4 separate regions of the Homo sapiens genome follow, and all the other regions are linked to region 2. The links come from fine-mapping of genetic effects on gene expression. A gene starts in region 2. Each other region holds a variant in brackets. All regions are shown on one strand. Distances are between the middles of the regions. Region 1 has its middle 33 kb from the start of RESF1. Region 2 holds the start of BICD1 (BICD cargo adaptor 1). Region 3 overlaps BICD1 (BICD cargo adaptor 1). Region 4 overlaps BICD1 (BICD cargo adaptor 1).

What was found. PIP is the estimated chance that this variant, and not a neighbour inherited with it, causes the effect. A credible set is the group of variants that fine-mapping cannot tell apart.
Region 1: its variant is the best candidate, but not a certain one, in a credible set for the expression of BICD1 in whole blood (TOPMed, PIP 0.57).
Region 3: its variant is the best candidate, but not a certain one, in a credible set for the expression of BICD1 in whole blood (INTERVAL, PIP 0.64).
Region 4: its variant is the best candidate, but not a certain one, in a credible set for the expression of BICD1 in caudate (GTEx, PIP 0.88).

What each region holds. Positions count from the first base shown.
Region 1 is chr12:31,922,578-31,930,685 of GRCh38, forward strand. No RefSeq gene overlaps it. Among named protein-coding and RNA genes, the nearest start is that of RESF1, 33 kb to the right of the region's middle. The variant G/A (reference allele first, on the strand shown) is at 4,419.
Region 2 is chr12:32,102,409-32,110,516 of GRCh38, forward strand. BICD1 (BICD cargo adaptor 1) reads left to right here and starts at 4,439. Exons shown (of 10, transcript NM_001714.4): 1 at 4,439-5,136. The coding sequence starts at 4,924. BICD1-AS1 (BICD1 antisense RNA 1) reads right to left here and starts at 5,054. Exons shown (of 3, transcript NR_185992.1): 1 at 4,986-5,054; 2 at 2,268-2,365; 3 at 1,709-1,882. RefSeq lists a silencer at 3,962-4,441 and enhancers at 4,802-4,881, 5,409-6,046.
Region 3 is chr12:32,371,263-32,379,370 of GRCh38, forward strand. It overlaps BICD1 (BICD cargo adaptor 1), which reads left to right. Exons shown (of 10, transcript NM_001714.4): 10 at 6,278-8,108. The coding sequence ends at 6,365. Among named protein-coding and RNA genes, the nearest start is that of FGD4, 24 kb to the right of the region's middle. The variant G/A (reference allele first, on the strand shown) is at 4,292.
Region 4 is chr12:32,128,315-32,136,422 of GRCh38, forward strand. The region is part of intron 1 of BICD1 (BICD cargo adaptor 1); the gene reads left to right. Among named protein-coding and RNA genes, the nearest start is that of BICD1-AS1, 25 kb to the left of the region's middle. RefSeq lists enhancers at 3,693-4,194, 5,976-6,135, 6,146-6,205. The variant A/G (reference allele first, on the strand shown) is at 3,393.

The sequences.
Region 1 (8,108 bases), 180 kb before region 2:
AGAGCAAAAGTTTAATAAGTGAAAGAGGAAAGCTCTCCACTGCAGAGAGGGGACCTGAGAGGGTTGCCATTTCACAATTGAGTACAAAGGCTGTTATGAGGAACCCAGAGGAACCAGATGGGTCTGGGCATTTCATTTGCATAACTGAAATTGCATAAGTTGTGAATTTCTGGTAGCTCCACCCTGTACCCCTAGTGTGCTGGCTGACTGGTGGTTGTCTTTAGAAAAGGCACCACTTAGAAAATGGCATGATGGTGTAAAGGACCAACTGGAGCCTTGGCTCACAACCAGCCTAGTGTTGGAGTGATGATTCATAGAGGTTTGGCTCACAGTCCAAAGTATGCCCAAAAAAGGAAAGGAATGTACTCACCACAGCCCACCATCTACATGCCCACAAAAGGAAAAGAAACTATTTCCTGGAAGGCTGCTGCTTACACAAAGAACAAAGGTGCTTCTATGTTGGGCCTTGCTTCCTTATCTGTGCAGCTATGGGTATATCCTAGGCAAGCTGCCTGTGCTAGTTCCCTTATCTGTATCTGTAGCCTGAGTTTTCAGGTTGTTCCTTTGTTTGAAAGAATTCTACTGAGCACCTGCCCTAACCGCCTTCCTAGCTGGTTCTTTCTTTTCTCCTCTCTCAGCTTGATGCCACACTGTTGCTGTCAACGAAACTAAAATTATGGTGGCTCAACACATTGAACTGACAGATTAGGCCTACAATCATGAATCCTACCCTAACCACATATGTGCACCACAATTGGGGCCCACATCCTCAACTCCTCCTTGTTGCTCAAATTTGGACTATTCCATTTGACACAGATCATCCACTATCATTACCATGACTCCCTCCTCCATGGGACATGACTTCCTGGGACAAATCTATTCCAGAACCAAAGGGCTTACTGAAATAATTGATCTCAGTGGTTTCTAAGGAAATATTTAAATCAAAAGGGGAAAATCTGAAAAGAAATCCAAAATGGAGATGATTATGCCAGAGGTCTCTAAAAAGGAGCCAGGAGGGCATAAGGAGTTGGACCCCCATCACCCATATACTCAGATGAAATTTGACATGTTCAAATTGGACCAAATCACAAACATCCTAAAGAAGCAGCTGAATTTGATGTGAACTGTTTACACTGGGCCTGATCACAAATCTCCTGAGAAGACAGCTGTGCCAAATTAGGTCGTTCATCACCAAGAGACATCTAAGCTGTCAATCAGCCATTGTCAATCATAGACTGTGCTAAAATTTTCCACTTGTATAAACTTGCCAGGAACCTTTATAAGCCCCTGCCCAGCTTGTCTGTATGGAATATGATTTAGCTGCTTGCTCGATTTGTGTCTCTCAAATTGCAATTTATAAAAGATCTCAATTAAAATACCTTCTCTCATATGCTTGTCTGCAGTGTTGGTTTTACTTCTTATTAGTTGCCAATAGATAAAAAATGGACATGCACAAAAATTGATTCTATATTTATCTAGGATGAATTGTTCAATAAATAGTATTGTGACAACTGAGTAGCCAGCTGGAAAACGAGAGTTGAACTCCTACAGCTTACCTTCCATTACAGTTAATTCTAGGTGGCTCAAAGATGTAAACATTTTGCAAAGTTGTAAATCCATAATGAAAACCAGGAAAAGATGTACATCCTCTTCCCAAGCATGCTAAAGTCTTAAGCAGGCATTACATAAAATAGGAATTACAAATAGCAAACAGTTAAAGCTGTTATCCCCCATAGTGAAGAGGAAAGCCACAAAGTTATCTGTGTTATCCACCAGAATGACTGAGTTTATTTTATTTATTTATTTATTTATTTTATTTTTTTGAGACGGAGTCTCACTCTGTCGCCCAGGCTGGAGTGCAGTGGCGTGACCTCAGCTCACTGCAAGCTCCACCTTCCGGGTTCACGCCATTCTCCTGCCTCAGCCTCCTGAGTAGCTGGGACTACAAGCACCCGCCACCACGCCCGGCTAATTTTTTGTGTTTTTAGTAGCTGGGATTACAGTTGCCCACTATCATGCCTGGCTAAGTTTTTTTTTTTTTTTTTTGAGACAGAGTTTTGCTCTTGTTGCCTGGGCTGGAGTACAATGGCATGATCTCAGCTCACTGCAACCTCTGCAAAATACAAAAATTAGCTGGGTATGGTGGCATGCACCTGTAGTCCCAGCTACTCGGGAGGCTAAGGCAGGAGAATCGCTTGAACCTGGGAGGCAGAAGTTGCAATGAGCCAAGATCACACCACTGCACTCCAGCCTGGCGACAGAGCGAGACTCCGTCTTAAAAAAAAAAAATATATATATATATATATATATATATATATATATTTTTTTTAAGAATGTCCATTTCACCTTTGCAAAAGCCAAAAGATAGAAACAACTCAAATATGATCTATAGAATATCCATATAGTGATACCCAAGAAGCTAGAATATTAGTTGCCTTTGGAGAAGCAAACTGGATGGCTGAGATGCAGAATTGGGAGTGTGATTAATTTTTCCTTTTATTCTTTTGACCATGCCTAGATTCTACCAGTTAAAAATAATATAAATTATTAATAAAAACATGAAGAGTTGATTAACATACATCACATATTTTGAGTACAGGGATAAATATGGGAGACATGCTGTCCCAGATATCAAAATATAAAGCTATCAAAACATTGTTGGCCAGGCGTGGTGGCACATGCCTACAATACCAGCACTTTGGGAGGTTGGGGGAGGAGACTGGCTTGAGCCCAGGATTGTGAGACCAGCCTGGGCAACATAGTGAGACTCTGTCTCAAAAAAAGAAGAAAAAATAACATTGTCATATTTAAGCAGGGACAAATTGGCCACTGAAAAAGAATAAGGTCCAGAAATAGACTCAAGTGCATATGTATACTATATAGCAACCTAAAGTTTCCTTTCAAATTGTGGGGAAAGATGAACTATTCAACAGGTGCTGTTTTGTTTGTTTTCAAGAAAAATAAAAATCCTTACATCATATCAAATAATAAATACTTTTGGTGGCAGGGCAGGGGGGATTTAAAAATTTTAAGCCAAATAAAGATATAAAGCTAACAGAAAAAAAATTTTAGAAAATACTTTCATAACTTCCAAGTGAGAAGGTATGTGTGTATAAATATATACCTTAAATATGTATACTCTATGTATATTTAAAGAAAATGTATACCAATTCTGTAAAGAGGTAAATGATAATTGCTTGATTTTTTTTTTTTTTTTTTTTTTTGAGATAGAGTCTCACTCTGTCGCCCAGGCTAGAGTACAGTGGCGCGATCTCAGCTCACTGCAAACTCCGCCTCCCGGGTTCATGCCATTCTCCTGCCTCAGCTTCCCGAGTAGCTGGGACTACAGGTGCCTGCCACCACGCCCAGCTAATTTTTTGTATTTTTAGTAGAGACAGGGTTTCATGGTGTTAGCCAGGATGATCTCGATCTCCTGACCTCGAGATCCACCTGCCTCGGCCTCCCAAAGTGCTGGGATTACAGGCGTGAGCCACCGCGCCCAGCCAATTGCTTGATTTTTGATACCATGCCAGATCATTTTCCAAGTCCACTTGCCCGAATGTCACACTCGTAAGAAATGATAAGTATCCATGTGGGATTGGTTCTAGGATCCACCCTCAGTTACCAAAATCCACGGATGCTTAAGTCTCTTATGTAAAATTACATAGTATTTGCATATGACCTACTCACATCCTCCTACACACTTTAAATCATCTCTAGATTACTTATAATACATAATACAATGTAAATGCTATGTAAATAGTTGTAATTCTGTATTGTTTAGGGACTAGTGACAAGAAAAAATAGTCTGTACATGTTCAGTACAGAAGCAATCTTTTTTTTTTTTAAGAGACAGGGTCAGGCGTGTATACAGGCGGCACATGTTAATAAACTGTTTCGGCCAGGCACGGTGGATCATGCCTGTAATCCCAGCACTTTGGGAGGCCGAGGTGGGCAGATCACGGGGTCAGGAGATTAAGACCATCCTGACTAACACGGTGAAACCCCGTCTCTACTAAAAATACAAAAAATTAGCCGGGCGTGGTAGCAGGCGCCTGTAGTCTCAGCTACCGGGAGGCTGAGGCAGGAGAACGGCGTGAACCCGGGAGGCGGAGCTTGCAGTGAGCCGAGATCGCACCACTGCACTCCAGCCTGGGCCACAGTGCGAGACTCCATCTGAAAAAAAAAAAAAAAAAAAAGACGGGGTCTCAGTCTGTTGCCCAGGCTGGAGTGCAGTGGCACAATCATAGCTCACTGCAGCCTCAAACTCCTGGGCTCAAGCAATCCTCCCACCTCAGCCTTCTGAGTAGCTGGAACTCCACACCACTGTGCTAGGCCTCTTTTTTTGTTTTGTTTTTGGTTTTTTTGAGACAGTTTTGCTCTTGTTGCCCAGGCAGGAGTGCAGTAGCACAATCTCG[G/A]CTCACTGCAACCTCTGCCTCCCAGGTTCAAGTGATTCTTCTGCCTCAGCCTCCCGAGTAGCTGGGACTACAGGCGAGTGCCACCACGCCCGACTAATTTTTGTATTTTTAGTAGAGACAGGGTTTCACCATATTGGCCAGTCTGGTCTCGAACTCCTGACCTCGTGATCCACCCACCTCGGCCTCCCAAAATGCTGGGATTACAGGCGTGAGCCACTGCACCCCGCCAATTTTTTGTATTTTCAGTAGAGACAGGGTTTCCCCATGTTGGTCAGGCTGGTCTCGAACTCCCGACCTCAGGTGATCTGCCCGCCTCAGCCTCCCGAAGTGCTGGGATCACAGGCATGAGCCACCTCGCCTAGCCTGTTTTTTGTTTTTTTGAGACAGGGTCTTGCTCTGTCACCCAGGCTGGAGTGCAGTTTTGCAGTGGCATGATCCCGGCTCACTGCAGCCTTAACTGCTCAGGCTCAAGCGACCCTCCCACCACAACCTCCCAAGTAGCTGTGTCCCACAGGCACACACCACAGTGCCTGGCTAATTTTTTTATTTTCTGTAGACATGGAGTCTCCCCATGTACTCAGGCTGGTCTCAATCTCCTGGGCTCAAATGATCCTCCCCCATCTTGTTCTCCCAAAGTTCTGGGATCACAGGCGTGAGCCACCGCCCCCAACTACTTTTTTAAAAATATTTTGATCTGCAGTTGGTTGAATCCTCAAATGTAAAACCCACAAATATGAAGAGCCGACAAGAACCAACATCTGACGAAGGTACAGAAAAACTACTGCACTACTGCTCTATAAGATTAGAAATTAATCTGTAAACATTGATACATTGTTAGGATGCTTTTGCCACCTGATAGAGACATTAATTCCAAATGTTCCAGGTCTTTATTGCCCTGAGAAAGTTAAGCAATCTTATAACTAATTTAGCAAATTTGTGTAAGGATTTTGCCTTTCAATATGAATGTATGTTCAAAGACAAAGGTCTGGAAAGATATGCACAAAATAAAATTAAACAGTGGTTATTTCTGGGGAGGAAAGTAGGAAATTGAATTTTTGCAACTTTTTGTACTTTTGTATTTTTCAGAAGTTCTTGTTTTTAAAATGTCAATGTAAAAGCACACACACAATAAATGTCTCCATCAACTCTTTGTCCACGACTAGAGAAATGGTTTAGTAAACTATATTTCTTTTCCTTGGAAACATATTCAATCATTAAAATTATGTTTATAAGGATTACATTATAACATGTAATTAAAGAAAGGGAAAACTATGCACAGAAAAGTTATAGGAGGAAAAACACCAGTGCATTAATTATATTGATAATATTTTATTTTTTTAAGTATTCTTATCTAATGAGAATGTAACATTTTTGTAATAAGGAAAATGTTAGTAAAAACAAAACACAGCATGTTTCAGCATGCCCTGACTCTTCTTTGAGGATATGTGATACAATAGATTGGCCTTTTGTGACTTTTACAAAAGGTTGTAGTTTTTGTTCCCTCCACACTTAAGAATTTTATCTCACATCATGAATATCTGACTTCTGGCTTTTTTTTTTTTTTAAGGTAAGCAAGCTAACATTTAAAACTGTGATTAAATAAGAGTATCTTTCAAGGTTTGGCTAAGGAGAGCTAACATTTCCGTGCTGTGCTGTTAATCAAAGGAACTTCTTCAGCTGGTTTTGTTTTGTTTTGTTTTGAGACGGAGTTTCGCTCTTGTTGCCCAGGCTGGAGTGCGGTGGCAGGATCTCAGCTCACTGCAACCTCTGCCTCCTGGGTTCAGGCGATTCTCCTCCTCCTGGGTTCAGGCGATTCTCCTGCCTCAGCCTCCTGAGTAGCTGGGATTACAGGCATGCACCACCACACCGGGCTAATTTCTGTATTTTTAGTAGAGACGGGGTTTCACCATGTTGGTCAGGCTGGTTCCTTTTTAACTGAAACATGTCAGAGAGGAAAAATTTTCCTCAACCCTCTTATGTTTTGTAACTGAGGGCCTGCAAATTAAACTAATAAAAGACATAGTAACAGGAGAAAAGGCACACCATTTTTATTAATATTTGCATGCAAAAGAGTTCTCAGGAAAGAAGTAGTTAGACTTGCGGTTTTATGTACCTTTTTAACAAAGGAAAGAGGGTTTGAGCTTCAAGGAACTAATTGTGGGGCACTGAGTAGGAAACATGGGGGAATTAATGGAAGATAAGGGCTATTTTAGAAAGATCTGTTTATGCAAATTCATCTTGGTGTTAATTCCCATCTTTGGTAAAAATCACTCTTCTCTCCCTGGTACTGGGTGGGTGGGGAAGCACCTTCCTCAATGGGAAATTTATGCCCTGCTTTTAGGCTCTGTCACCCAGGCTGGAGTGCAGTGACATGATCATGGCTCACAGCAGCTTCGACCTCCAGGGTTCAAGCTATCCTCCCGCCTTAGCCTCTTGTGTAGCTGGGACCACAGGCTAGCACCACCACACTCAGCTAATTAAAAAAAAAAATTTTGGTGGAGATGTTCCCGAACCGAACCAGGCCTGGCTGTATGTTCTCACAGCCCAATAATGAGATGCAGATGGACTGGGAAAGAAGGGAGTTTATTTCTGTAACTGGATACAGGGAGAAGATCAGAGATTATTCGCCAGACCAACTCAAGGTATTACAATTCTTCCCATGCTCATACATGTTTGGACTACATGCCTACGTGCAGTATCACATTTGCCTAAGTTTATCAGTAATTAATTTTGCTTCAACTAGAAGGTCAGAGGCCAAAAATGCCCTCTAAATCTACCTAATCCGTGAGGGTCCTCGTACCAGGGTGATTAAGAAATGTCTCCTAAATTTACTTAAGGAGGATCCTGGCACCAGAGCAATTACTTCTACTTTATCTTACCTACGGTTTGGTCCTAAGAGTTGCTCCAGACCCTCCTCCTTAAAATAAATCGTTTCAAGGACTGTCTATGTTACCTTGACTCGCCCCAGATGTCAACCCGAGACAGATCCTGGTACAAGGAATGTAAGGCTGTCTCCATTATCTTGACGTGCTCCAGGTTTTAGGAGAAGCCTGTGCAAGGCACTTACTGAACATATATTTCATTTCTGGTTCTGACGTCCGAGCATTGATTTTCCCTAGACTTAATTGTTAGCCCAATATTAAGGCAAGCGCTGTGGAAATTCATCTATGTAAATGGAGTGCTATGGAGCCCTGTCTGTGTGACTGTCAGGGAGAACTGGCCTGCCACAGATATGAGGTCTCACTATGTTGCCCAGGTTGGTCTCGAGTTTCTGGGCTCAAGTGATCCTCCTGCCTTGGCCTCCCAAAGTGCTCGGATTACAAACATGAGCCACCGCTCCCAGCCACCTGCATCTCCTGATTCTCAATTACCTTCAGCTCAAAATTTTCCTATGACAATGTGTCATATTTTGGGGTCGCATATTCAGATCCCCTTCAAACAAAGATGAATAAAGTCAAAACACCTATGGGGTAAAAATTCCTCATTCTGAAGGCACCAGGTAAAGATTATGCTCTTTGGAGAGACAAGATAGAAACTGCCATTGCAAAATTATAACTGAGAAAATTATGACAGTAAAGGAGATCTGAGCTAACCAACTCCATCTTGCTTCAAGCTATCCAATTTGACTCCTGGGTGTACGTAGAACTAACTCAGGGAGGAACTCAATTTATAGTTTAACTTTCCCCAAAC
Region 2 (8,108 bases):
CCTGACTAAAGAATCATCAAAGGCCTCCCCTGAGAATAAAACCCAAATTCTTCATTCTGACTTGCAAGGCAAGTATAATTCCCGCCTATCTCTCTGATGTTGCCTGACTTCTTGATATAGTCTTAGGCCATTTCCCTTGAGCTTCTTAATCCTCAGCCTCTTTCATTTTTTTTTTTTTTTATTTGTTTTTGAGACAGGGTCTTGCTCTGTCACCCAGGCTGGAGTGCAGTGGCACGATCATGGCTCACTGTAGCCTTCACTGCCAGGCTCATGGGATCGTCCCACCTCAGCCTCCCAAGTAGCTGGGACTACAGGTATGCACCACCATGCTCGTTCGATTAAAATTTTTTTTTTTTTTAGTAGAAATGGGGTCTTGGTATGTTGCCCAGGCTGGTCTCGAACTCCTGAGCTCACATAATCCTCCTACCTTGGCCTCCCAGAGTGCTGAGATTACAGGCATGAGCCACTGCACCCAGCAGCCTCTCAGATTTTTATTCTTTGCACTCAACAAGCTCTTTTCTGCCTTTGGCTTTTACACATTATTTCCTTTCCCTGAAAAGCTTCTCCCCCACATTTTGTATATCCGACTCCTTTTTGTTCCTCATAGATAATAAAATGAATATCACTTCTTCAGAGAGATCTCTACTGATTATCTTTTTTTCTTCTTTCTACCTAAATTTTATCCTTGTTTTTCTTTTAAAACTTTTAAAAAGCACATATAAAATGCTTATGTGTGTGATACTATTCTATTCACAACAATCTCATAATTAGATTATATTATTATCTCCTTTTTAGATATGACACAACTGAGAAACACACAGCTAGTAAGTGGCAAAGTTGGATATGACCCAAGTAGACTAGCTTGTGCTTTTTTTTTTTGCTTTTTTTCTTTTCTTTTTTTTGAGACGGAGTCTCACTCTGTCACTTGGGCTAGAGTGCAGTGGCGGATCTCTGCTCACTCCAACCTCCAACTCCCGAATTCAAGTGATTCTCCTGCCTCAGCCTCCCGAGTAGCTGGGATTACAGGCGCCCACCACCACACCCAGCTAATTTTTGTATTTTTAGTAGAGATGGGGTTTCACCATGTTGGTCGGGCTGGTCTCGAACTCCTGACCTCAGATGATCCGCCCACCTCGGCCTCCCAAAGTACTGGGACTACAGGTGTAAGCCACCGAGCCTGGCCTTTTTTTCTTTTCTTTTGGTGAGTCTTGCTTTGTCACCAGGCTAGAGCACAGTGGCACAATCAGTACATTGCAGCCTTAATCTCTTGGGTTCAAGCCATCATACTGCCTCAGCCTCCTAAGTATTGGGGACCACAGGCATGTATTACCATGCCCAGCTAGTATTTTTTAATTTTTTGTAGCCATGAGGTCTCGCTATGTTGCCCAGGCTGGTCTTGAACTGCTGGCCTCAAGTGACCCTTCTGCCTCAGCCTCCCAAAGTGCTAGGATTACCAGTATGAGCCACCACACCCAGCCTAGGAATGCTTTAAGAAATTATTTTCTATATACCTGTCATTGATATATATGCAATACATATGGCATATACGAAAAAAGAGGGAACTGTAACTATGCAGTACTGGAACAGCATGGTGTATAGGAAAATAAATTTGGCTGGGCATGGTGGCTCACATCTGTAATCCCAGAACTTTGGGAGGCCAGGGTGGGAGGATCACTTGATCCCAGGAGTTTGAGACCAGCCTGGGCAACATAGACAGACCCTGTCTCTACAAAAATTTAAAAAATTAGCTGAGTGTGGTGGTATTCATCTGTAGTTCCAGCTACTCAGGAGGCTGAGGTGGGAGGATCGCTTGAGTCCAGGAGGTTGAGGCTGCAGGGAGTCATGATCATGCCACTCCACTCCAGCCTAAGTGATGGAGACCCTGTCTCAGAAAAAAAGAGAAAAAAAACAAGAAAATAAGTTTATCTTCTTTACGTTAAATACCAACATTTAAGGATCAAAGTTCAACTAAGCAACATCTTAAAGTGTCAGAGTGTGCAAGACATGCCTGAAATCAGACAAAAGTGACAAGTGACAAAAGTGTATCAATCAGAAAAACGGGGCAGGATAGAGCATAGGGGCTGGACCACAATGGAAATTTAGCAAAAAGGAAAGTCACAGAGGCAAACTCTGTTCTTAGTTTGATCCAAAGGAGAGGGAGGCACAGGCAATCTAGTGCGAGTCTTATGATCCCTTTGGAAGGCCTATGCTTACAGTTTGTAGAGTGAGGAACAGCCAGAGGCTTCCTGGGAAGGCAGGTTAGCTACCTGCAATTGCAGGTTCCATCTCTTTTCAGCAGTTCATCATCATTCATCAACGTGTCAGAGGTCAGATGCCACGGGAGCACACAGGAGGGGCTTCCCACCTGGAGTGCGAGATAAGGAAAGATGGGTCGGATGTTGTAGTCATTATCATCCGCTTCTCTACAAGGCTGGAATTTATGGTGGCTGCACATTTGGAATGTTTTCTCCTTTTATTTATTTATTTTTAGATCAGACAATCACAAGAGAATATTCTTTTGTTTTATTTTTAGATCAGACAATCACATGAGAATATTCTGTTGTGATCGCTGGCGTTTAGAAGGAAACTTGTCTGGTTTGTGAAGCAATGGAAAACACATCCAGACAGCCTGCTAGTGGAAACTTTGGAAGGGCACTGTCATATGCTTTTTCTCCCACGCCATCAACAAGTGTCCTTTTTTTTTTTTTTTTTTGAGATGGAGTCTCTGTTGCCTAGGCTGGAGTATAGTGGTGCCATCTGTACCCTCCACCTCCTGGATTCAAGCAATTCTCCTGCCTCAGCCTCCCAAGTAGCTGGGATCACAGGCGTGCACCACCATACCTGGCTAATTTTTGTATTTTTAGTAGAGATGGGATTTCACCATGTGGGCCAGGCTAGTCTTGAACTCCGGACCTCAAATGATCCATCCACTTCTGCCTCCCAAAGTGCTGGGATTATAGGCGTGAGCCACTGTGCCCGGTCAACAATCATCTTTTTTTTTTTTTTTTTTTTTTTTACCAGGTACACAATGATGGGAGAGTTGAGTCCTGCTTTCTAACTTAGAAAACGCATGTGTGTTCATCACCTGGTCACTGAGAAACAGCTCTGGAATAGGTGCCATGCAGAAGAAGAGAGGGAACTGGAAAGACCCACTGATCTGTGGGTCTCACAGCCTCCCGTTACACAGAAATTGCTTCTTTTCTCTCATGTTGCGTTCTTCCTCTTGATTCTCGACCCTTCTCCACTCTTTCATTTACTCCACTCTTACTTTGCTTTCACCTCCTTTTGTAACCGTTCATCATCACTCTTCATATGGATTAATGTGATTATCTTAAAAGCATGTAATATGTAGTTGCTGGGTTTGTATGAGTAATGAGTGAACCTGAAGCCAACATAATGATCCCGTTTAGTGCTCCCGAGTTAAGATTCCAGAGTTGCCTGACTTTGGACAAATCACATCTCCCTTTGCCTTTCACCCCCTGTAAACTGAGGATAATGGCTCTTACCTCAAAGCATTGTTAGGATTGGAGAGAACGCATGTTACATACTTAGAAGAATGCTTGGTATGGGTCTCAAGAACTCTTAGCTCTTATTGTTTAAAAAATGCTTATTACAGGGCATCGTTGGTATCTTATATAGGGAATTTCAAGCAGTTTTCCTTTATTGAAGACACAGAGTAAGGTGCTTTGATGGAAACTATTGGGGCAAGATATACAGTACCTAGCTAGAGGTTTCCTGGGTGCATGTATTGTGGAGATATTTTTTTTCTGAGTGGATAGCGCTCTTGTGATACGCTGGGTGAGGGCGAGCAATATTTAGCGGACTGTCCTGTGAGGATAGTAAGGTTATCTGGTGAGAGTGTTAGGTGGCCCAGGCCAGACTTGGGAGAGGCAGGGAGAGAGGGGGACGACGGAGGAGGGCGCCTTGGGGTGCGTCTTGAAAGCTTTGGGAAACCCAGCGGTCTTTTGGGGGCAGGTGGCCCAAAAAGCCTTCTGCGCGCCCAGGGGACGAGGAGGATGCGCGGACCGCGACCGCGATAGTTTTGTTTGCTTTTCTCGGGAGAAAGCGTTCCAGGCAGTTTCCTGAGCTTCGGCCCTCGACGTAGCAAAAGAGCCCGGGCGCCCACGCCGCTCTCGGGGTCTTCTACTGCCACCGGGACAAAGCCCTGGGAGGAGCTCCCGCCCCCGCGAGCCGGACAGGGCGGAGGCTCCCCCGCCGCGCGCGCCCCACCGCTTCCCAGTCCCAGACCCGTCGCCTGCGCCTCCTCCTGGCGCGCCTCACGGTGCAGCGGGCGGCGGCCCGCGCGCCCGGCGGGAGGCGCCTCGGGATGTTTCCGTCTGGTCCTTCCCTCCGCCCCCCGCGCTGACTCCATCCGCTCCCCGCCCCCTGCTCGGAGCCGCCGCCACGCGGGAAGGGAGGGAGCCGGCCCCGAGACTGCATCATTCCGCACCGGCTGCTGCAGGGCCAGAGGGAGCAGGTGGAGCGAGAGAGCGAGCCGCGAGCCGGAGCGCGCCAGACCCAGGGCGAGACTGCAGTGACGCGGCCCGGGAGACATGGCGGACGGGCGTCTCTGAATAAGCAGAATCCGGAGCCCCTCGCTACCCGCGGCCGCCGCAGCCCGGGCCATGCCGCACGGCTGCTGACCGCACGCAGGGGCCGGCCCCGAGGACACATGCGGCGGCCTTTGCCGCCTCGCCCCTGACCCTCTGCCCTGTTCTCCATGTTGCATTTCTCGTCAGTTTCTCGGGCGGTGTAGCTGCCGCTGCCACCAGAGCCGGCGGGGCATCGCGCTGCTCATTCATCCGGCCGCACTTTCTTTTCCGTTTCCACCCATCCCTTCCCATTTCCTTCTCCCTTTCCCCGCCAGCTTCGCATCCATCTCCCCCACCCCGTAACCCCCTCCTGCCTCCATCCACCGGGGCTATGGCCGCAGAAGAGGTATTGCAGACGGTGGACCATTATAAGACTGAGATAGAGAGGCTAACCAAGGAGCTCACGGAGACCACCCACGAGAAGATCCAGGCTGCCGAGTACGGGCTGGTGGTGCTGGAGGAGAAGCTGACCCTCAAACAGCAGTATGATGAACTGGAGGCTGAGTACGACAGCCTCAAACAGGAGCTGGAGCAGCTCAAAGAGGTGAGTTGCCTGTCACCTCTCCCTTTCCTGGCCCTCACTCCCCCCACCCGCAAGGCCCACTCATCATGATCAAGAAGTCATAAAGGAGGTGATTGAAAGGACTGTTTTTTCTTCTAGGGCCCTTTGTTGGTAAGAGAAGATTGAAAGAGTCCATTGTTTCCTCCCCCAAGAGAAAAATTGCCTAAGAAATGAATATATAAGCTGGAATTTGGGAGGCAATGGCTGTTTGGCCTGCGGGGGAGGGAGATTAGTAAGAGTCATCAAGTCTCAGCACTCTAAGACGACATTCAAGTGGGTTGGAATGTATAAATCAAACTTCTCAAAACCGCTGTTATCTCAAACCCAGGTTTCAGCGACAATTTCGTAGTCCACAAAAGTGATGAGGTTTGTGCCTGAGGACCCACAATTTCAGGATTTAGACTGTGTGGCACCTCAGCTTTCCTCTGGATGTAACCACTCCTTGGTGAGAGAGGGAACTCCTCACCAATCCCATTTGACAAAGGCTAGGCAATCTTCATTCTGCTTGGCTTTAGTCATTCTTGTCATTGGGCTGCAGAAGAAAAACAACTTTGCTGGGTGATCCCACTGCCTTGATTTCACCTCGGAGCGAGGCTGGGCCATGTCCAAGTCTTATGAGGTCACCCTGACTAGAAAAAATTGAACTCACCTACAAATAGTCTGAAAGAGTGGTGTATATCAAATACGTGGGTAGTGTTGCATTTCAAATGAGGCTCTTCTGGTTGAAATGATATATTTATAAAACCAGAATATCAAAAATGGGTGATGTATAATGTCTCTTTAGTTTTTTGGTATTTGGCCTCTTTTAAAGCCTGTCGGATGTATGGGAGAAAACAATGAACGTGCTTTGATTTCCTATCAGTCACTCTTAAGAACATACATATTGTTTAAGTAACTCGGTCTTTTTTATCTGATTCTTGAGGCACTATGGGTAGCAAATAACCACTTACAAATTTAAATGTAATATACACTCCTTTTCTGTGTGTCAAGTCCTTATTTTTAGGTGCATATTGACATTTAAATGTTAATTATTGTTTGGCATATAATATCAAAAATCTATTATTTATTTTATGCTGTTACAGTTAAAAGATGTGATTTATGACATACTGAATCAACTTGCCTTCCAATTTAGTGTGTAATATGGTAAGCATTTATACTTTTAGATATGTCTTATTTTTATTTGGATGCCTGTCTACCAAAAAATAAATGTACTACCTATGATTAAAAATCCCAACTAGGAATCTAATTTTTGTGTGTCAGGCTGTAAATTTCTGGTTCCTATTTTACTTACCATGTACCTGTCTGGTCTTAACAACAGCTGGACTTGTTTATATTTTCCAACTTAGATTAGGCTGACATGTTTAAATGCAGTGATGCTAAACCTTGTGAAGTGAGGAAGCAGGATGATGACTGTCATTCTCAGAGATGTTTTGATATTGTCTATACCTATCAACACTGCTTTGCCAAGATAGGGAAGTGCAAACCAGAAAGTGGTAAGCCATCACCTTCTTGATAAAGGAGATGGACTTAATTTAATGAAATGTACCTCTTACTGACTTTGCTGCTTGATTTAAACAATCCTTCTAGGGATATTTCTGTCATTGCACTTACCTTGCATAGCAAACCTTAATGCAATTGTGTTTTGCCTTTGCTACACCATGAGCTTTGCATCCCAAGTCTTTAACACAAAAGCTAGCACACAGTGGGCATGAAATATTTTATGAAAGAATCAGTTTGTACTAGAAGAAGGCACACTTTTATCAAGGGTTCACTAGTCAATATTGATTAGTGTTAGATAAATACTAAGAAAATTAGGATGTATAGGAAGTGACAGATGTTAATAAAACTACCTGTATTAGTTTCACCAGCAGTAATGAGAAAAATGTGAAAAAAACGTTTTGTAGGAATAATGTAACTGTGGTTTCTTAATACAGAATAATGCAAATACCAACTAAAATTTTTTCTATAAATATTTTAATATATATTTTGTTCTATATAGCAGGAGGTTAATAAAAATTTACCAGCATTATTTTTACTAAACGATTCTTGTTCATATATTTATTTTCAGTTGCATTTAGCATAAGTGAAATTCGAGATTCCTAAAAAACTGGTTTATACAGTTATATAAAAATGTATTTTAGGTAATAAAATTATTATAGTTGATTATTTGATAGTGAGGCCTATTATTTTTATTCTTTAAACATAGAATATACTTTAGTTGGAAATATAACTTAAATGAGTTAAATTGATTTCAAGTAACATTTCTTGTATGAAAAGTAAATCCAAAATAATTGTGCAAACTGAGGTGTTCCAACACCTCAGTTTTGAAAAATATTTTGTGAGTGTTTTGATTTTTCAAAAGAAAGTTTTGCTCATCAGGTATGTATAGTAAATGATGTTGCATTATATCTATAAAGCCAAGCATAAAATAAATCTTTGCTTATTTCTAGGATTTTTGAACAAATATGATTTATTTAAAAATAATTGAACCAGTTTATGGGAATGTCAACAGAAAACTACTGTATTAAGTCCAAATTGGACATTAGTAATTTGCAGTATAGCAACATGGCTCAGTCTTTGCAGATCATTTTGTTTTCCAGAGTCAGTACCCACCAATGTTGCTACCTTCCTTCCCAGGCTAGGTACTGCTGTGACAATAATGCAAGTCGGCAGTGTTGCCTAAAGATGTGCAAAATCAAGAAGATGAAATTCATTAAATTTTTTTCCTAGTTATTTCTTCCCTCAACTCAATTGTTTTTTGACCTGGCCTGATGTTGTTTAGTGCTCTGCATGGACTACTGTAATTCAGCTCACAGAAGAACACACTTGAAAGAATAGTACTAAGGATTTGAAAAAAGGATGACTTCTGACATCATCAAAGTGTTCTCCTTTTCATGATTCTTTGGGCAGCTGGACAGAGCAGTATGTCCACTAGAATACTTGAGTCTGGTTTT
Region 3 (8,108 bases), 270 kb after region 2:
CGTGGTCTACGTAAAGAAATGATTAAATGCATATAGATCTGAAAAGACTCTTTTCCAAAATTGCTGGGATGATGACTGACTCTTTTCCCACCCATACACACTGCCAAATGGGTCAATGTTAATACCTTCATTGCCCTTTTTACTCCTTCTTGGCAGAAAAGTTAACACATAGCCAACATTCGAATTCTTAGTATAAACCAGACAAGGGTTCATTTCTTTACACATATTAAACATTACAGCCTTCCATAAGGGATAAGCACAGTTATTACACCCATTTTTGTTGTTGTTTTTGTTTGTTTGGTTTAGTTTTTTGGCGTTTTTTTGTTTGTTTTTGTTTTTGTTTGAGACAGAGTCTCCCTCTGTTGCCCAGGCTGGAGTGCAGTGGCGTGATCTTGGCTCACTGGCACCTCCACCTCCTGGGTTCAAGCAATTCTTCTGCCTCAGCCACCCGAGTAGCTGGGATTACAGGTGTGTGCCACCACACCCAGCTAATTTTTGTATTTTTAGTAGAGACAGGGTTTCACCATGTTGGCCAGGCTGCCCTTGAACTCCTGACCTCCAGTGATCTGCCTGCCTCAGCCTCCTAAAGTACTGGGGTTACAAGCATGAGCCACCACACCTGGTCTTACACCCATTTTTATGTGACGAAATTGAGGTTTGGGAAGGTAAAATGACTTGTTCAAGGTCACATATCCTGAACACAACTGAGCCTAGTGACTCCTACCTACCACCACAGGTGGCTGCACTGCAGAGGAGAAATCTATTTCAGTTACACTGTGAGGAGCAAAGTCAGAGTATGTAAATCACCCACCATGATTCCTTTTCCCTCAAACTGAAGAGGAATGTTTGTTTAATGAGAAACAGAAGATGTGCTAAGAATGTTGAGTTATTTCACATCAGGTGTTCTGTTTCTCATTTTGAAAAATGATTTTGAGTGCTGGGCCCAGTGGCTCATGCCTGTAATCCCAGCACTTTGGGAGGCCAAGGTGGGCAGATCACCTGAGGTCAGGAGTTCGAGACCAGCCTGGCCAATATGGTGAAACGGCATCTCTACTAAAAATACAGAAATTAGCCAGGCATGGTGGCAGGCACCTGTAATCCCAGCTCCTCAGGAGGCTGAGGCAGGAGAATCACTTGGAACAGGGAGGCGGAGGTTGCAGTGAACCAAGATCACGCTTGGACAACTCCAGCTTGGGCAACAGAGTGAGACTCCATCTTAAAAAAAAAATTATTTTGTACTTCCCTCGGTTTATACATATATTCAAACAGCTTTTAAGGTGAATGATTTTTTAATAAAAGAGCATTTTCTCACCTTTAACAATGTAGAACTTTTCAGCCGGACATGGTGACTCACCTCTGTAGTCCCAGCACTTTGGAAGGCTGAGGTGGGAAGATTGCTTGAGCCCAGGATTTCTAGATCAGCCTAGGCAACTTGGTGAAACCCTGTCCTTTAAAACAAAATACAAGAATTAGGCATGGTGGCCTGCATCTGTAGTCCCAGCTACTCAGGAGGCTGCGGTGGGAGGATCGTTTCAGCCTAGGAGTTCAAGGCAGCAGTGAGCCGAGATTGTGCCACTGCGCTCCGGCCTGGGTGGCAGAAGAGGACCCTGTCTCCAAAAACAGAAAAAAAGTAGAACTTTTCCATGTATACTTTTTACAGGCTAATTCCATTGTAGAGCTAAATTATCAAAATTGTTTATAGATAATAGGTATTATAATATGAAAGGAATGCCCAAGGTATATAGCCTTGGATATAATATTGAAATATATAGAGTTGTTTGGTATTTAGCACTTCCCTTCTATCAAGTAGTTTTCTACTTGGGAAAAAAAAAGAAACTTCCTGAAGATGTATCCAATTTTATATCTTAGTAACAGCTTCCTAAACTTGCCATTTACAACATGATCTACCTATGTAAAGTAAAATCAATGGTAAATGTTGAATAACAAGTGGACTCTTGAAAATATTTAGCAATCACAACTGAAACTGAATTCATTCTATGCCTTAAATGATTATAATTTATCAAATATTTATATCCAAGAAATAGTATCTTAACCTGTAAGCCAAGAATGTGTGTCTTACAGGTTAATTTACACATAATATACACCATGTGATTGCAGCATTTTATGCAAATTAAAAATATTAATACTATAGATAATAACTTTATGTAAGAAATCTATCTAAAGGAATGAAAAAAATTTAAATCATCACGAATGATGTAATGTCAAGGTGTTAGGCAAAGTGAGTTGTAACCCATATTTAAGCTATAGCTACACACTTCAGCTGGTCAGGAAGAAATATTTGTCTTCCTTTATCAAAAAGAGTATTGGGGCCAGGTGCAGCGGCTCACGCCTGTAATCCCAACACTTTGGGAGGCTGAGGCGGGTGGATCACAAGGTCAGGAGTTCGAGACTGTCATGGCTAACACAGTGAAACCCCGTCTCTACTAAAAAAAAAAAAATACAAAAAATTAGCCAGGTGTTGTGGCATGTGCCTGTAGTCCCAGCTACTCGGGAGGCTGAGACAGGAGAATCACTTGAACCCGGAAGGTGGAGGTGGCAGTGAGCCAAGATCGCGCCAGTGCACTCCAGGCTGGGCGACAGTTTGAGACTGTCTCAAAAAAAAAAAAAAGTATTGGATTACACAAGGTCTTCAAAAACATATCTTTCTTGGGTGGACACAGTGGCTCATGCCTGTAATCCTTGCGCTTTGGGAAGCAGAGGCAGGCTGATCACTTGAGGTCAGGAGTTCGAGACCAGCCTGGGCAACATGGTGAAACTCTGTCTCTACTAAAAATACAAAAATTAGCCAGGTGTGGTGGCGCAGGCCTGTAATCCCAGCTACTCAGGAGGCTGAGGCACTAGAATTGCTTGAACCTGGGAGGCAGAGGTTGCAGTGAGCTGGGATCGTGCCACTGCACTCCAGCCTGGGCGACAAAGTGAGATTCTGCTCAAAAAAAAAAAGAAAAGAAAAGAAAAGAAAAAAAAGCCATATCTTTCTTGTGTAATGTGACGATTCTGCATTACTTGCCATAAATCACATTGCATAATATGTTTAGTTCCCTAAAAAGAAATTAGTTCTGGTGCTGACTTCCACAGCACGTATAGTAAAATTGGAGTTTTTTTTACTATATGTGCTGTGGAAGTCAGCAGTCTAAGTCATGCATATTTGCAGAAAAACTGTTAGGTCGATGGGAAAGTCTGGCCTATAACCTGCTGTTTACCAGGCCGTCAAACTCTGTTTGGAGGGTCAAGTGTGAATCTTGCCATACATTATTTTCTGTTTTAAATATTTTCTTTTCTTTCTTCTTTTTTTTTTTTTTTTGAGACGGAGTTTTGCTCTTGTTACCCAGGCTGGAGTGCAATGGCGTGATCTCAGCTCACCGCAACGTCTGCCTCCCGGGTTCAAGCGATTCTCCTGCCTCAGCCTCCTGAGTAGCTGGGATTACAGGCATGTGCCACCACGCCCGGCTAATTTTTTTTTTTTTTTTTTTTTTTTGTATTTTTAGTAGAGACAGGGTTTCTCCATGTTGGTCAGGATGGTCTTGAACTCCCAACCACAGGTGATCCGCCTGCCTCGGCCTCCCAAAGTGCTGGGATTGCAGGCGTGAGCCACTATGCTTGGCCTAAGATTTTCTTCATTTATTTTCCTTTTTTTTTTTTTTTTTTTTTTTTTTGAGACGGAGTCTCGCTCTGTCGTCCAGGCTGGAGTGCAATGGCGCGATCTCGGCTCACTGCAAGCTCCGCCTCCCGGGTTCACGCCATTCTCCTACCTCAGCCTCCGGAGTAGCTGGGACTACAGGCGCCCGCCACCACGCCCAGCTAATTTTTTTTTTTAATTATTTTTAGTAGAGACGGGGTTTCACCATGTTGGCCAGGATGGTCTCTATCTCCTGAGCTCATGATCCGCCCGCCTTGGCCTCCTGAAGTGCTGGGATTACAGGCGTGCGCCACCGCGCCCAGGCTTATTTTCCAATTTATAAATGAGGCCGGGCACGGTGGCTCGTGTGTGTAATCTCAGCACTTTGAGAGGCCGAGGTGGGCAGATCACTTGAAGTCAGGAGTTCGAGACCAGCCTGGCCAAAATGGTGAAAGTCCGTCTCTACTAAAAATACAAAAAATTAGCCGGACGCGGTGGTGGGCCCTTGTAATCCCAGCTACTCGGGAGGCTGAAGCAGGAGAATTGCTTGAACCCAGGAGGCAGAGGTTGCAGTGAGCCGAGATCGTGCCACTGCACTCCTGCCTGGGCGACAGTGAGATTCCATATCAAAAAAATTTACAAATGAAACTATGC[G/A]CTATTTTCTTAGGCTTTTTGTTGAAGGTCCAGTTCTCCCATGTTTACATACCACATTTTAAAAATAGGTAGGAAAAACAATTTTTATCACTGCTTGTCTTAACCAGTACAGAACAGCAAAGCTTCTTTTAAACTATATTTACAGCACTTCAAAGAGTTTGGGAAGAAAGAATAACCTCAAGCCAGTCAGATATTTTCCATAATTATGATTTTGTATTAAAATGCAAGAGATATAGGTAGAGGATAATTTCAGTACCAAAGATAAAAATTATTTAATACTAATTTTAATGACTCCATTACATTTTAAACTCCATTAAATTTAAAGCTAATTTTAATTAGCTTTAAAAAGCTATGCTTAAATTAATAGTAATAATGAGCCTTGAATTGTTCTCTCAAACATCACTTCTGGTAGAAATGAATTATATAGTACTGACTTTCATAGTTTAAGGGAATATAACAGAGTTTTAGAAAAATACTCTTTTCTAATTAAAAAAACAAATCTCCATGTTGTGATTCCCCCATTGCTAGTCACATTTTTTTTTTTTTTTTGAGACGGAGTCTCGCCCTGTTGCCAAACTGGAGTACAGTGGCGCCATCTTGGCTCGCTGCAACCTCTGCCTCCCATGTTCAAGTGATTCTCCTGCCTCAGCCTCCCGAATAGCTGGGACTACAGGCACACGCCACCATACCCAGCTAATTTTTTTTTTGTATTTTTAGTAGAGACAGGGTTTCACCATGTTGGCCAGGATGGTCTCAATCTCTTGACCTCATAATCCTCCTGCCTTGGCCTCCCAAAGTGCTGGGATTACAGGTGTGAGCCACCGCGCCCGGCCGCTAGTCAAATTTTAAAAGGCCCAAACCCAAATGTGTTTTGTCATTTTACCCTAGGAAACTCAATGATTTTGCTTCTTTATTCTTCAAGATTATTCATCCAGACCCTGATAGGCCTGAGCACAGGTTCATTTAAACTAGAGGCTATCACAGGCGTCGTTTGGAAAGTTACATTATACACTTAACAAATGGGAAATGTTAGGCTGGGCTCGGTGGCTCACGCCTGTAATCCCAACACTTGGGGAGGCCGAGGCAGGTGGATCACCAGAGGTCAGGAGTTCGAGACCAGCCTGGCCAACATAGCAAAACCCCATCACTACTGAAAATACAAAAATTGGCAGGGCATGGTAGTGCATGCATGTAATCCCAGCTGCTCGGGAGGCTGAGGCAGGAGAATCGCTTGAACTCGGGAGGCGGAGGCTGCAGTGAGCTGAGATGGAGCCACTGCACACCAGCCTGGGCAAAACAACGAGACTCCATCTAAAAAAAAAAGGGGGGGGGGGGTGAAATATAAAACTCTTCCTTATACCTCCAAGCCCAAGCAGGTAGGGGGAATTCTTAGAGCAAATTAGACTTCCACAGGCAAATTCTTTATCCTAGTGAATCTGGATCTACCAGATAACTATAGAATCCTCTAAACTCCAAAGCCTTGGTCAACCTGTCAGTACCATCAGCATCACTGGGAGCTCATTAAAAATGTAGAATCTCAGATCTCACCCCACACCTAATGAATCCGAATCTGCCCTTTATACTGAGCTCCCCAGGTAATTTGCATGCATATTAAAGTTTGAAAAGAACTGATCTCATGAAATCTTACAGCTAACACAGAGACCTAGGAGAACAAGACCGTGCAAAAATTGAGAAGAACTTCTGTAAAATGCTGGGGGCAAGAAAATAGGGAAAACAAGAAAAGAGAAGAGTGACTTTGAGGGAAGAGTGCATATATCATTTCCTTAATACATTTCATTTTTCTTTTTTATGCCTTGTTTTGAAAAGCTACCATTATCTTGGCATGCTTTAGATGGAAACCATTTACTGTGCAGATTTCTGTTCTTGTTCTCAAAATCTATGCAAAAATATCTCGTCTAACCCCTACCATTGTGCCTGGCCCTTTGAAATGTGTTTCTTGCTGACGTGCTTGTTTCTCCTTTCCAGTCCTGACACAGCTCTCCCTGAGGAGCAGCCACATTCCAGCTCCCAGTGCGCCCCTCTCCACTGTCTCTCCAAGCCTCCTCACCCCTAGTCTTCATCTCCTGTGGACGAACATCTGGGGTGGAAGTTTTGTAGCCACACACAGGATACTGCCCAAGATCCAGCGGGTGTTTTCTTCTCGGTTGTTAGATGTACAATTGGATTAATGTCCATCGTTTTGGAAGACGAGAGAAAGTTGAGAAGAACACGAAGCACAGACCCTGATGTGATAAAACATTTTGTGGTTTCTCTGAGTCACAGATAAACTTCTGCCATCAAATGGCTACAGTTCATTTAAATTTAAAAAAAAGAAAAAAGAAACAGAAAACGTGTCTCAGATGGCTGGCTTTACCTCGATAGCATAAGAGAGACCTAAGACATGTAAAATACGTATATTGCAGTATCATCTTTCCTCACACTCCAAATTCAGCTAGGGAAGTTGATTCCAATATGTTTGTCATTGATATTTATTTTGTACTTTATTTGCTACATGATTTATGTCTATACAAATAATTTCTCTGAGGTGAATTTAATTCATTTATTTTCAAATAAGCATAATTTGCTCAATTAAGTATGAGTTTGAATTTAGTTTGAAATCTGGAATTGGCCAGACTGTGGTCATTTTTCTTGCACAAAATGATAAATGAGGTGCATCAGAATGTTAACAATAACTGTATTTTGCTGCTACGCTGGTATTGTTTAGGCACTTACTTTCTAATCAGTAGCTCATTAACTGCTGGGTTTTGTTTTTGTATTTTTAACTAGAGTTCTTCACTGGACATTACTAAGTAAATCTAAGAAAGAGACTAAGTTATGATTTATTGACTTATTCAAGTTTTGATGGCATCTTTACTTTTATTTTTTCATTGCAGTTGAGTAGATGTACTGGTGCTGCTCCTTTGTATGTGTGTATGTGTGTGATAACGTTAAAGAAGGCTCAATAACTTGAAGGGAAAAAAATGGTGTGTTTATTTAATGACCAGAATTTTTTTTACTTCTCCCAAAATCAGGGTCCTACTGAGTCTTTCCTGATAAAAGGTATCAAGTACAAATGGGAAAATATATACATATATAGATGTAAGATAGCCTTTAATTAATTAATTTACCCAGAGAGTGTTCAAAGTTTGATTAAAATTGTATGTTTTGTTGTTGTTAGTTTTTTTCATAACGAATCTTCCTTGCCAAAAAAACAATAGATAATAAACCTTAGCTCATTGTCTACTTTTGACAAACACTCAGGTGCCTACAAACATTCTATTATCTTGAGATAATACATGTTCCTGGTTAATTTACAGATTCTGCTGGGTAACTTTTATGACTTGATTTAAGGCAGTGGATTTTCATAGCAAAATTTATTTTGCACATAATCTGACAAACAAGGAAAACAGCTAACTGAGCTGAAAGGTCTAACACTCTCGGGCTCCTTAACCATCAAGTGCTGCCCACACAATTGCTCCTAGCCCTGATTCCTTGTCTTTGTCAGGTAGCCTTAACTTATTTAAAACCATAAGGGTTTGACCTTTTCATATAAAGACATCTGTAACTTCTCTTCAAAACAAAAATGACCCTCACTGTTAACACAAAGGACAGTTACCAGTGTAGGGCACTGAGAAAGGAGATCCAGGAGCCACTCAGCTTATTGAGCGGACATGGGTGGCACAGAAATGGAGTGGTCCATCAGAGACCAAATGGTAAGTCGTAAAGCACATTGCAGGAGCTTTCGTTAGTCATACGCCTATTAAGTAGTGGTCGCTATTACCAAAGCAACCAGGACGTTTTGTGTTCTTTATATGAG
Region 4 (8,108 bases), 26 kb after region 2:
GGAAGCATATGCGTATTTCCACTTAAGCATCTGAAATATTGCCTCTAGTGCTGAACAAATTCTTCCCTTGGTTATTTTCCTCTTATCTCAGTCCCTGGAAGAATAAATGCCTGTACTAATTCTCTATATACATAAATGGTCTCTTTAGGTATAAATAACCTCATAATCACATAAAAGTTAAAGTTTTAATGGAAAAGGCTGAGATGAAATATTACCTAAGTAGGAATTAATTGCTTTTTATCACTTTACATTATTTCATTTTTAGTATTATGAAAAATATAATTGTTCCTTTTCTTAAAAAAAAACCAGCGTAATTTGTGCTTAGTTTTAAACCAAAATTTTTCCTATATGTTTATAGTTTATATTTTCAAGCCAAAATACTTGAGTTTTTTTCCTGTCATAATATATCAATATGAGAAATGTATTGTTACTTTAGAATCTTTTAAAACTTCTTTTTATTCCTTTTTTTGTTTTTTAAGATAGGGTATTGTTTTGTTGCGCAGGCTAGAATGCAAGGGCACGATCTTGGCTTACTGTAGCCTCAGCCTCCCAGGTTCAAGCAACCCTCCCACATCAGCCATACAAGTAGCCGGGACTACAGGCATGCACCACCATGTCCAACTAATTTTTTTTTTCTTTTTTTTTGAGACAGAATCTCGCTCTGTTGCCCAGGCTGGAGTGCAGTGGCACGATCTTGGCTCACTGCAACCTCTGCCTCCCAGATTCAAGAGATTCTCCTGCCTCAGCCTCCCGAGTAGCTGGGATTATGCACCATTGTGCCTGGCTAATTTTTGTATTTTTATAGAGATGGGGTTTCACCATGTTGTCCAGGCTGGTCTCGAACTCCTGACCTCAGGTGATCCGCCTGCCTCAGCTCCCCAAAGTGCTGGGGTTAGAGGCCCAACTAATTTTTTAAAAATTTTTTGTAGGCCGGGCATGGTGGCTTATGCCTGTAATCCCAGCACTTTGGGAGTCCAGGCAGACGGATCACCTGAGGTCAGGAGTTGGAGACCAGCCTGGCCAACATAGTGAAATCCTGTCTCTACTAAAAATAAAAAAAATTAGCCAGGTATGGTGGCACATGCCTATAGTCCCAGCTACTTGGGAGGCTGAGGCAGGACAATTGCTTGAACCCAGGAGGTGGAGGTTGCAGTGAGCTGAGATGGCGCAACTATACTCCAGCCTGGGCGACAGAGCGAGATTCCATCTCAAAAAAAAAAAAAAAAAAAAAAATTCTGTAAACACAAGGTGTCACTATGTTTCCCAGGCTGGTCTCAAACTCTGGGCTCAACCGATCTTCCCACCTCAGCCTCCCACAGTCCTGGGATTATAGACATGAGCCACCGCACCTGGCCTAAAACTCTTTCTTCAACATTAAGAAATAAGACTTTTCCAGTCTCTTTCTTAACCCTGTACCCTTTTCTTTCTCATCTTCTTTTATCCCCTCCCTTCATTAACTTTACATTGCAATACCAAGGACTTAATGGTTTGTTAAAAAAATGAATTCTACTCAGTAGAAAATTCCTGAGAATATTTATTAAATGTCACTGGGAGGAAATTTCCCTAAGCAAGATACAAAACTTAGAATCAAAAGGGAGGACTGACTTATTTGGTTTTAGAAATGAAAAAGAACAGTTTGGAAGAAATAGTGCGATGTGGATGACTTACAAACAATTATTATTCCTAAAATATAGGTACAATGAGTTTATTGAAAACAACATAATGCAATAGGAAAAAAGGACAAAGAGCAACTAGTCAGAGAGGATTTGCAAGTAAATCAGTAAATGGGAAGAGATGTTCAATCTGAGTAGTCAGTGAATGTAAATTAAGGAAGTTTACTTTTTTTCCCATTAATTTACAAAAATTTTAAATATGATAATATACAGTGACAAAATTTTTTTTTTTTTTGAGATGGAGTCTCGCTCTGTCGCCCAGGCTGGAGTGCACTGGGCAATCTCGGCTCACTGCAAGCTCCGCCTCTCGGGTTCATGCCCTTCTCCTGCCTCAGCCTCCCAAGTAGCTGGGACTACAGGCGCCTGCCACCGCGCTCGGCTAACTTTTTGTGTTTTTAGTAGAGACGGGGTTTCACCGTGGTCTCGATCTCCTGACCTCGTGATCTGCCTGCCTCAGCCTCCCAAAGTGCTGGGATTACAGGCGTGAGCCACCACGCCCGGCCCCAAAATTTTTAAATAATGATAATATACAGTGTCGGAAAGTGTGTAGAGGTAGAAGTGTGAATTGCTGTGAACTTTGAGAACGTGGATTGGCAGTCTGTATTAAGATCTAAAATGCATACAGTGCTTGGGCCCAGCAGTCTCACAGAAGCCATAGGTGATTGTATGTCAGTTCCCAAATACCACTCGTTAGAGAGAAGCACTGTTTAACATCTAGTATCTCATTTAGACCCTGTTTGAGCATAGATCATATGTGTGTGGAACATAAAAGTAATCGAAGTATGCTCATTCTTTTTTTAACATATCTTTCCAGGCTTCTATATAGTTAAATAAATAATGCTCCTTGACATTTATGTATTTATTTATTTAGATGGAGTCTATTTCTGTCGCCCAGGTTGGAGTTCAGTGGTGTGATCTCAGCTCACTGCAACCTCTGCCTTTCGGGTTCAAGCAATTCTCCTGCCTTAGCCTCTCAAGCTGGGACTATAGGCATGCACCACCATTCCCGGCTAATTTTTGTATTTTTAGTAGAGACGGGGTTTCGTCATGTTGGCCAGGCTGGTCTCGAACTCCTGACCTCAGGTGATCTGCCCGCCTCAGCCTCCCAAAGTGCTGGGATTACAGGTGTGAGTCACCACGCCAGGCTGCTCCGTGACATTTAAATAAAATCATATTTTAAAGTCCAGTTGTAAGCCTATACATCCCCCTTATCACTTATCTCTAATTCACTTCTAGACCTGGTTTGAACTTTGGATTTAGTGCTTTCAAAGTGTGATTTTTTTAAAAAAATTATTTTTCTGTTGCCGTATATTTCAGCTCTTCTCGGTCTTGAAAAGATTTGTGAGCCTTTTTGACAAAAGGTGGTGCTCATTTTCTATTTCGGTGGCTCCAGTAAAGGGAGCTGCTCTCTCATCGGATGATTATTGCCCCCAGAAGTGGTCCTACCATAGCTTTACTGGTCAGTTAGCCAGAATTTACACATTTACTCTGAGGCTTACAAAAATACTGTGTTCATAAAAAGCCCTCCTTCACATTTTGTGAAACAGTTGCATGGTGATTTGGGATATTTTAAGTTTACCATCACCTCTCTGTCCTCTGCAAAAATAAAAATTGTGGAATGTAAAACAACTCTGTTGCACAAAAAGGGGAACTTGGTGTAGGAAAAAATAACTAGAAATGATAACTACGAGACACTGCACTCCCAAATTGAAGATTTAA[A/G]AAAATTCCTGATCGTAAATAAGAAAAATTATGGAGACATTTATCCACTGCATATCTGATGACTAAACGCTTGGTATACCCCAGCCATTGTTAGGTGCCAGGGTACAAAGTTCCTGCCCTCAGCGGGTTGACACACTTGTGGGGGAGAAAGGCAACAAAAGCTTAAGCAAGTAAATGCATAATTTTACAGGGTGATATGTGCTAAAAACTAAATAAAGCAAGGTGGAGGAATAACAAGACTGGCGGGGGTGCTGGCTGGGGTGGCTATTTGAGAAATGAGGGCCAGGCATGGCCTTTCAGAGGAGATGATGTTGGAGCTGAATCCCAAGTGGTCAGAAGGAGCAAGGTGGGAAAATATTTGAGCAAGATGGGAAAATATTTCAGTTCCTGGGTCAAAAGTAACAGTAAGTGTAAAGATCTTGAGATGGGGGCTGGGCACTGTGGCTCACACCTGTAATCCCAGCTGTTTGGGAGGCCAAGGTGGGCAGATCATGAGGTCAGGAGTTCGAGACCAGCTTGACCAATATGGTGAAAACCTGTCTCTACTAAAAATACAAAAATTAGCTGGGTGTGGTGGCAGGCGCTTGTAATCCCAGCTACTCAGGAGGCTGAGGCAGGAGAATTGCTTGAACCCGGGAGGCGGAGGTTGCAGTGAACCGAGATTGTGCCACTGCACTGCAGCCTAGGCGACAGAGCGAGACTCTGTCTCAAAAAAAAAAAAAAAAAGATCTTGAGATGAGAATGAACTGGGTTTTTGTGAAAATGGCAAATGGCATTTTGGGTACTGCAAGCCTTTGCGGCTCGGAACTGTGCTGTGCACTGTGGGACTGTGTGGCTCAATGCGGGACGGTTAGCATCCCTAGTCACTGTCATTACAAAAACAGTCACACATTCTAGACACCCACTGCCCGCCCCAACGCCAAGGGGGCAGTACTGCCTTCAACCAGGACCCCAAAAGACTCCAGTGTGGCAGTTGTTGGGGAGGGGGAATGTGAGAGGGGCAGTGGAGAGGGAGTCAGCAAGCAGGTTCTCTGAGCCCTGGTGAGAAGTCTGGATTTTATTTTAAGCCGCCTGAGTGATGTGATTTCATACATGTTTTTAAAAGATCACTCTGGTTATTCCTTGCAGACAGTGGAAGAGTGAGCCAAGTTAGGAGGCTATTGCAGTAGTTCAGGTAAGAGATGATGGTGGCTTAGACTGAGAGAGAATCTACTTGAGGGTAAGAAGTGATCTGATTCAGGGTATATGTTGAAAGATTTGCTAATTAATTAAATATGGGAGGCAAAAGAAGGTGGAGAAATCAGGATGGCTCCTAGGTTTCTTATAAGGAGCTAGGAAGAATGTAAAGAAATCATATGATAAGGAGATATAAAAAGGAATAAAATAATATTTCACACTTAAATTTAGGAGACGAAATATTTGCTTATTTGAATTTGAAAATTCTTGTGGATACCAATATTGATACTTTGTCTGAAAAATAATTTTAAGATGAGTCTCCTGGCCAGGCGGGGTGGCTCATGCCTGTAATCCCAGCACTTTGGGAGGCTGAGTCAGGTGGATCACCTGAGGTCAGGAGTTTGAGACCAGCCTGACCAACATGGTGAAACCCCATCTCTACTAAAAATGCAAAAATTAGCCGGGTATGGTGGTGCACACCTGTAATCCTAGCTACTCGGGAGGTTGAGGCACAAGAATCACTTGAACCTGGGAGGTAGAGGTTGCAGTGAGCCAAGATCGTGCCACTGCAAGCCAGCCTGGGCGACAGAACAAGACTCCATCTGGGAAAAAAAAAAAAGATGAGTCTGCCAAAATGTTTCTCATTTGGAAGGGATTCATGACTTTGCCAGAAAAACAAGCAGCATTCTATAGTTATAATGCTCTATGATGTAATTTACTGGACCTAAGTTGGCTACCTTTCATGATGCATATTAAGTGTGGAGCCATATTTCTTAGTTTCTGTTATAAAGCTAAACTGTTAAGTCATTTTTATTCCTATAAAGTCAAACAAACTAGCCATGGATACTTTTTAACATTCTGTGAAACCAACTTTATCCAGTTTCTGAAATGGATGCCAGTTCTTTTTTTTTTTTTTTGAGATGGAGTCTTGCTCTGTCCCCCAGGCTGGAGTGCAGTGGTACGATCTCTGATCACTGCAACCTCCGCCTCCCGGGTTCACGCCATTCTTCTGCCTCAGCCTCTTGAGTAGCTGGGACTACAGGCGCCTGCCACCACGCCTGGCTAATTTTTTGTATTTTTAGTAGAGACGGGGTTTCACTGTGTTGGCCAGGATGGTCTTGATCTCCTGACCTGGTGATCCACCCACCTCGGCCTCCCAAAGTGCTGGGATTACAGGCCTGAGCCACTGTGCCTGGCTGGATGCCAGTACTTTTTAAACCAAAGTTAAAATAATTATTTATAGGAAGCAGTTGTGCACTGTAGATTAGGAACATGGAGACTGGGGCATAAATATATTCTTGAGCTAGAATTAAAGTAAAACATGTGACTGATGGAAATAACAGCTCTCCCTGTGCCCTACCATGGAACTTGGTAAGCCTTTGTTAACTCACTGGCACTGCTAGATCATGCTATGGTCCCCGAGGGCCAGGGAGGCAAGTGTGCTAGTCCAAGTAAAAAGCTGATATGATCTTTGTATGAACAGAAACACTGTTTGTAATGTGATGATAACGTTGGTTTCTTGCTCCTGGGATATTGTGTTCTAGGTAAAGTGGTCCAGAGACCAATGGGTGGCAGATACAGGGATACAGAGGTCAACTTAATATAAAAAAAGACCTTCTCTAATGTCTAAGAGCAGAGTGAAAGTGAGCAGGCCATCTGAGGAGAGAGAGACTTCCCTGTTGGCTCATCATGATGCTTAAGCAGAGCCAAAAAGCTACTTGGTAGGGATGTCAAGGAAGTGAGTCAGGTGTTTTCAGCACCGCGACTCTGTCATTGTGTGCCTCTCTCCTTAATACCTCAGAATTAGAATAAAGTCTTGATAACAGTAGTGGCACCAGTCCTGTGGTTTGTTTTGCGATGACTGTGTGGTTGTTAAACTTTCTAAGTGAAACACCATAGTGTCGGGAGCAATGCCGACAAGCCTGGCCACCTTTGGTCTACAGCAGATATTGCAAGCTGATATCCCGTGGCCACAGTCAGGCTTGGTGATTGATAAACATTTTGATTTAGGGAGCTGCTTTTTTCAAGAAACAGAATCACATAAACAGGATTTCAGGCCAGTCTCAAAAAACTGGAAGATTTCACAGAGCCTTGGGCCCACATTTCTGTGTGGCATCAGAGGGCTAGAGGTGAATGAGTCCTCCTCTCCTCTCCTCTCCCCCTCCTCCCCTCCATTCCCCTCCCCTCCCCTTCCCCGCTCCCCTCCTTTATTTTTTTTTTTTATGAGACGGAGTCTCACTGTGTCACCCAGGCTGGAGTGCAGTGGTGTGGTCTCAGTTCATTGCAACCTCCATCTCCCAGGTTCAAGCCATTCTCCTGCCTCAGCCTCCTGAGTAGCTGGGATTACAGGTGCATGCCACCATGCCTGGCTAATTTTATATTTTTAGTAGAGATGGGCTTTCACCATGTTGGCCAGGCTGGTCTTGAACTTGTGACCTCAGGTGATCCGCCTGCCTCGGCCTCCCAAAGTGCCGGGATTACAGGCATGAGCCACCATGCGTGGCTTTTTTTTTTTTTTTTTTTTTTTTTTTTTTGAGACAGGGTCTCTTGCGCTGTCACCTAGGCTGGAGTGCAGTGAGACAAACACAGCTCACTGCAGCCTAGACCTGCTGGGTTTAAGTGATCCTTACATCTCAGCCTCCTGAGTACCTGGGACTACAGGTGTGCATCACCACACCTGGCTAATTTTTAAATTTATTGTAGAGACAACACTTCACTATATTGGCTGGCCTGGTCTCAAATTCCTTGCCTCAAGCGATCTTCTGCCTTTACATCCCAAAGTGCTGGAATTACAGGCATGAACCTTCACCTTTCTTTTAGAAAGAGCGTGAATCTCTAATTCACCAGAGTCCCCACCATTCCATCTCATCTGAGTTATCTCACTATCTCTGTTCTTCCCTCATTTACATCATCTGTCACTTACCTGTTGACATGTGAGTTTTGACTTTTGATTGAGATGCTGACACCCTCCTTCCCTTCTAGGAAAGGAAAATAAAGGGGGAAGGAAGGTGGAGAGGGACAAAGGAGAGGCGTGTGGAGGATGATAGCGCAGGACTTGCATTCTCAGTTCTGCCTCTTAAATCTTGGAACCTATTTCTTCATCTAACAGTATAGGACTGATGTTTATTTTTGTATTAGATCATATATATAGGAGTACCTGGCATATAACTTTGTCCAAAGTACACATTCTTTAGCTGGTGCTCCTCTGTGTTCCCCTGTAAAGACTGAGGCAACTATAATGTTCCACTGTTCTGTGATTATTGATTTTCAGGTCTGTTTCCTCCACCAGATTATGTGTGTCTTACTCAACTTTGTATCACCAAGCACCTACGTGGCATTTTTTCTTTTTTGAAGGTAGGGACCATGGCTTTCTCTTTCTTTACTGGACACTGTATAGATGTCATGCAGGTCTGAACGTCACACTGTTAAATAATTACTTAACAACTGACCAGAACTAAGGCTGTGGTCTAGAGCTCCAAACCAGAAGCAAAAAGGAATGGTGCTGGGCTGGGGCACTTTCCTCTAACATCACCCAAACCC